Regions from separate parts of the Homo sapiens genome. Here region 2 is linked to region 1. Evidence: fine-mapped expression QTL. A gene starts in region 1. The other region holds a variant in brackets. All regions are shown on one strand. Distances are from middle to middle. Region 1 holds the start of TOX (thymocyte selection associated high mobility group box). Region 2 has its middle 64 kb from the start of TOX-DT.

Evidence for each region.
Region 2: its variant is fine-mapped to the expression of TOX in whole blood (TOPMed, PIP above 0.99).

What each region holds. Positions count from the first base shown.
Region 1 is chr8:59,117,550-59,120,459 of GRCh38, reverse strand. TOX (thymocyte selection associated high mobility group box) reads left to right here and starts at 1,313. Exons shown (of 9, transcript NM_014729.3): 1 at 1,313-1,574. The coding sequence starts at 1,473. It overlaps TOX-DT (TOX divergent transcript), which reads right to left and starts at 1,250. Exons shown (of 3, transcript NR_149031.1): 1 at 1,175-1,250; 2 at 389-503; 3 at 1-124. RefSeq lists a silencer at 569-788.
Region 2 is chr8:59,181,779-59,184,688 of GRCh38, reverse strand. No RefSeq gene overlaps it. Among named protein-coding and RNA genes, the nearest start is that of TOX-DT, 64 kb to the right of the region's middle. The variant A/C (reference allele first, on the strand shown) is at 1,767.

The DNA of each region.
Region 1 (2,910 bases):
GAGTTGGGGAGGCAAAGCGGGAAAACATGTTTGGCGATTTCCTCCTGCCACTCACCGACCGGAGAAATGGGGAGGCGGACTCCAGGTCTTTCGTGGACTGCCAAGAGCCCTATAGGGCGTCCAGCTATAAAAAGAGAAGAATCCCATGAAGGACAACAAGCAAACTCATATGTTATCCCTTTAGCCGGATTGTGTGCTGATGATTGTTTCCCTATTTACACTTCGAATCACCCCTGTGGTCTTTTGTGAGTCCCCAAGGCAGCCTCAGCCTTCGCAAACCGTCCAGTGGGGCACGAATCTCGGAGGGGTGCGGGCTGCAGGCGGCAGAGGGAAGCCAAAGAGGGGCGGCTTTTCCAGGCCGTCCACCCCCAGGCGAGCTGGTCCTCACCCTTCGATCGGCTCGAGTCCCTCGGACAGTTGCCCACTCACAGCGTGCAAAGGGGTCGCACTCCCTGTGGGTTCTCCGCCCTCAGAAGCGGCGCTGCGCAGGAAAGTCACCTCCACTACGGGCCGGGAGTAGGGAGGGGAGCACAGTGACAGGGTTGGGGAACAGCCGAGGAGGAGTGGGGGTCGCGGAGATAGGGGTGGGGACGGCCGCGGAGAGGGCGGTGGGAGTGGGGTGGGGCCGGGGAGGGCCGGGGGCGGGGCTGCGGGGCGGGGTGCGCCACAGCGCCCCCTAGCTGCGCGCTCCCCACGGTGCCCTGAGGCCGCTGGTGGCTCTGGCTCGGCAGCCCCTTTGTGTGCGACGCGCTGGTCCCGAGGAGCGCGGCACGGGCACAGCGGAGGCCTCCCAGGGTCCCACCGCTTCTGTCCCAGCCAGGCCGTGCTCTCCTCCTTCTCCTTCTCCGCTCCTCCTTTCTCCGGTCCCCGGCCTCTGGTTCCGAACAGCAGCCATTGGGCCTTGACGAGCCCGCGTCCGGCCGCGCTCCCTACCCCGCCCGGCCCGGGACGCTCGCCCCCCTCCCGCCCTGTCCCTTCTGGATCCCCGCCCCACCCCCCCACCCCCCACATCCCGGGCCTCCAAGGTGGAGAAAATAAACTACAAGCAGAACAACTCAGAATCTCCAATAAAACGCCCAGTACCTAGAGCCCGAGCGCGTGTGCCGGGCTGCGAGGGGCGCGGGAGGCGGGGATGGGGGGGCGGGCGGGGGGGACAATGAGCGCATGAAGTTACCTGCCCGGCGGCGGCGGCAGCGGCGGCGGCGGGACCAAGAGGCGGCGGTGGAGCAGGCTGCGCGCTCGGCGCCGACGGGTGCGCGCCGCGGCTTGGGGGAGAGTTGAGCGCTTTTCCCCCCTCTTTTTTTTTTTTTTCCTCTTCTTCTTAAACAAACCACAAACGGATGTGAGGGAAGGAAGGTGTTTCTTTTACTCCTGAGCCCAGACACCTCACTCTGTTCCGTCTAAGCTTGTTTTGCTGAACACTTTTTTTTAAAAAAGGAAAAAGAAAAGGAGTTGCTTGATGTGAGAGTGAAATGGACGTAAGATTTTATCCACCTCCAGCCCAGCCCGCCGCTGCGCCCGACGCTCCCTGTCTGGGACCTTCTCCCTGCCTGGACCCCTACTATTGCAACAAGGTGAACGCTCTGCTTTTGTTTCCACCGTGTTCTTGCTGCTTGATCCTGGGAGGGGAGCGGCGGTGGCCGGGCCGCGGCGGGGCCGGCTTGGCGGAGGCCGGTCCCGGGCGCGCTCGGCTCGCAGCCCGCTGCAGCCTGCGTGCGCTTGGGTAGTAAATATTGTGGAGTAGCTCCGGGGGCTTGCCAAACACCGCGATTGTGCGGAAAGTGACACGATTTGCTCGGATTCTTTCCTTCCTGCTGTTCGCGGCTAAGGATCCCTGCCTAGGTTTGCCGGGGGGCGTTTAAAAAAATAATAAGAGAAAACCGTGGAATACTTTGGGGGTGTGTCTGGGGTCCAGGAACGGAGGCAGAGTAAGAGAATTCAGTTTATTTCCCAGTTCCCCCTTCTCTCTCCCTCCCTCCCCGGGCAGTGGGGGCTCGTGGCACCACTTCCCTTCTCCGGATTAGTTGCCAGGGGAGCAGCCGGGAGTCGGGGTGCAGGGACCTGGGAGGCGCCCCTGCCCCCCACAGGGAAAACTGCCCCACAACTCTTTTGTTTTCTCAAACCGGTTCCGGCAGCCGAGCCCGGGTTCGGACACAGGTCCGCGGGCCAGAGCACAGCGGGGTAGCTGGGTCAAGGTTTGGGGAACAGTTCCTGTTTAAGGGGTGCGCGCGGAAATTGCAAGTTTGTTGGGAGCCGGGCGAGCACGTCGCGTTCAAGTCCAAAGCTCCCGCACTCGCGGAGCAGGGTCCGCGGCTGAGCTGTACCCACGGCCCGCTGACCTCGGGTGCCAGGGCCGCGGGGGCCCGGGGAGAGGCGGATCATGCCGGTGACCCGGAGGTGGGGCGCTGGCCTGGGCTGCTGCGGAGTTCGGCTGGGTCCACCTATAGGACAGTCAGGGGGTACGAGGGAGGGGGTTACTCTCCCGGCTTCTCGAACTCTCTCATCCCAGAGAGGGAGGACACGCAGGGACCGGTCCCCCAGAGTGGTCGCAGGGGCACGACTGCCCACGCCTAGGGCTAGTTGGACGTGTCTAAGCAGTCCCGTTGGATGAACGTTGGCAGAGAGAATTGAGTTCTCTAAAACGCTGGGCGGGCCTTTTAGACGCCCAACTCTCGCTTGGTGATAAATCTGCCTGATACTCACAGCCCCTGCAGGCACATCCATGGCGACCCTCGGTGCATTCCACGGGAAAAATCGTTGGGACTCCCAACATTTGCCTGGTGGCGAGTCATCACCAAACGGCTTTTTTACCTGATACAGAGATATTTAGTGCGCTGCCTTCTCAGCCCTGGACTCCGCACCACGCGACCGAGTCGCAGCTCCGAGTCTTGGACAGTGTTGACACACAGG
Region 2 (2,910 bases), 64 kb before region 1:
CCAGACAGCCACAGTGACAGAATAGGAGACAGAGCATGGACATGCAGCCCCATGACTTAGAACCAGCAGTGCCTCCCATCAAAATCAGTGGAAAAGGGCTGGGCGCAGTGGCTCACACCTGTAATCTTAGGACTTTGGGAGGCTCAGGCAGGATCACTTGAGGCCAGGATTTCAAGACGAGCCTGGGCAACATAGGGAGACCCCCATGTCTACATACAATTTTTTAAAAATTCGCTGGGTATGGTGGCGTGTGACTGCGGTCCCAGCTACTCAGGAGGCTGAGGAAGGAGGATCACTTGAGCCCGGGAGGTGGAGGCTACAGTGAACCATGTGAGCCACTGTGCTCCAGCCTCCATGACAGAACAAGATGTTGTCTCAAAAGAAAAAAAAATCACTGGAGAAACCACTTTGGTCCTCAGAAGCTTTGTTACACCCTTACCTCAAAGCCCATTCTTCATGACCTCAACCTTCAAGTGCAGTATCAACTCGCTTACAGTCCTCTCCTGACTTTCTTCAAGACAGAACTAACTAGATACAAGTTCTTCCTCCTCTTTTTCCTATTTACTTCTTTTGTAAGGTAGACTTTTTTAAAGGAGGGGGTGGGAGGGGGACTAACAAAGCGGAAGGGACTTCTCTCCAGGGTAATAAAAGTGGGGCATCCAGAGTTCAACCTTTCAAAATCTTTAACTCTATCTGGTCATTTTAACAACCGTATTCTCAATACAGTTGTTGAGGGGAGTTGTCCCCTCATTCTTGCATCAAAAAAATAAAATGAAACATTTCTTAGTTCTACCAGGTCCACCACTCCTGTGCTCTGTTTCCCGACAGGGTGGTGCCAGTCACTCATCTTTTCCCAAATGTATTAGTGACATATTTTACTTTGACTTCCTCACTGCCATAACTTTTTCTACTTTTCTAAATAAGCAGTTTCTCTGAATATCCCTTCAAACCCAATAATGATTACTATTCAAACATGAACAGTCTAAAAGATAAAATGTTAAAAATTAAACTTATTTTATTAAGATAGTTGGGTATATGTGATTTTTTGTTTTAAAATTCTATTTTGTTTTAATGTTATTACTGTACAAAAATACAATTTTTAGATAAATAATAATGTCTCAGGTGGAAGTTTAAAGACCTTCTCTGCCAACTGCCCAGGCTTGTGAGGAACAGTGAGAAAATATATGTGTACATGCTCTGAAAATGGCAAGCCACCTCTCAAGTGAAACAGATTCCTATAAAAATCTCTACATTTGTTAGAACACTTAGCATTGTACCTTGGGGGAATTGAGACGCTAAATTATTGTTTATGGAATAAACTGTTTAATTAAGAGCTGAACTTATGTAACCAAAAAAGTCCTATAGTTTCATATATCATTTTATGCAGTTATTATAAAATGAAACATAATTTCTGAGAAAGCAAAAGTAATAGATTTTTCCATTGTCATTGAAATGAGTAAGCCCCAATACCAAGCAGGTAAAGAAAAAAAAAAAACCTTGTTTATTAATTTTCCAGGGGAAGTGGTTTTATTTTATAATGTTTAGGGGAAGGCTTATCATGAGGTTACAATTTAGCCTAACTTTTTTTCATAAATTTAATTTTTTAGAGCAGTTTTAGGTTCATAGCAAAGTTATGTGAAAGGTACAAAGATTTCCTATATAACCCTTGCCCCCACACAGGCACTGCTTCCCCAGTGTCCACATCCAACCACAGTGGTACATTTGTTAACCATTTGTTACAATTCATGAACCCACATTGACACAGC[A/C]TTATCACCGGAAGTTCACAGTTCACATTAGTGTTCACTCTTGATGTACCCTCTATGGGTTTTGACAAATGAATAATGCCATGCAGCCACCATTATAGCATCCTACAGAGTAGTTTCACTGCCCTGAAATCCCCTATGCTCTATTCATCCCTCCCAGCCCACTAGCCCCTGGCAGCTTCTGCCTCTTAGCCTAATTTTTATAACAGTAACATCAGTTCTTCAGATGTTTTAAAATGCCTTTTTATACTTTCTCTATTGGTTACATAGAGGTGTATTGCTGCCTGTCACCCACTACCATGTCCCCTACCTATTTGCTTCAAACATTATCTGTTGTACAACACCGTCATCTGAAATGAAAACCTACAACATTACTGCAGGAAAATTCATTAACAGTTACAATTTAAACACCAGTGATGTAACCATTCACTGGAAAAATATGAATTGACGACCTACTATGGGCCAAGCTTTAGGGATCCAGCAATGAACAAGCAGATAGTGTCCATGCTCTTGGGTTACTTACATTCCACCTATAATATCTAACACATCAGTGGTCTGGATGCTGAGTGAGCGGGTACATATTTCTGGCTCTTGATCTTGTTTCTTATGCTTACCTTTTGAGAAAACAGCAAGATATGGAGATAAATATATTATCCAAAAACTTTACCTCAGAATTAGTGTCCTGAAGAGATTAGAGCTAAAGTCTAATGTGATTTTGTCTCTCTTAAATTATTTATCTACAAGTCCTAAGTAGAAATTTTGAAGTTAGGTGACAGCAAAAGCAGAAAACATTTTTTCTTCTTGCAGTCACCACGGCAGTGGTAGTAAAAGTAACAATTAGCATATGTGGGGTATAGGCTAAGTGCTTCATATATATATGTATATATACATATACACAAATATATGTATACACACACATACACACACACAATCTCATCAGTCCTATAAAAATATGTACTATTGCCCAAACTTTACCCCAAAAATTGCCTTGCTGAAAGCATATTTATTTAGCATCTCATTGGCCAAAATGTGACAAATTCTGTAAGAGATACCAAAAAATTATGAGATGCTACTATTTTCAAATGTAACAATGATTAAGATATCAGCAGTAGATACACATGCACAAATTAGAAGCACATTTACTAGT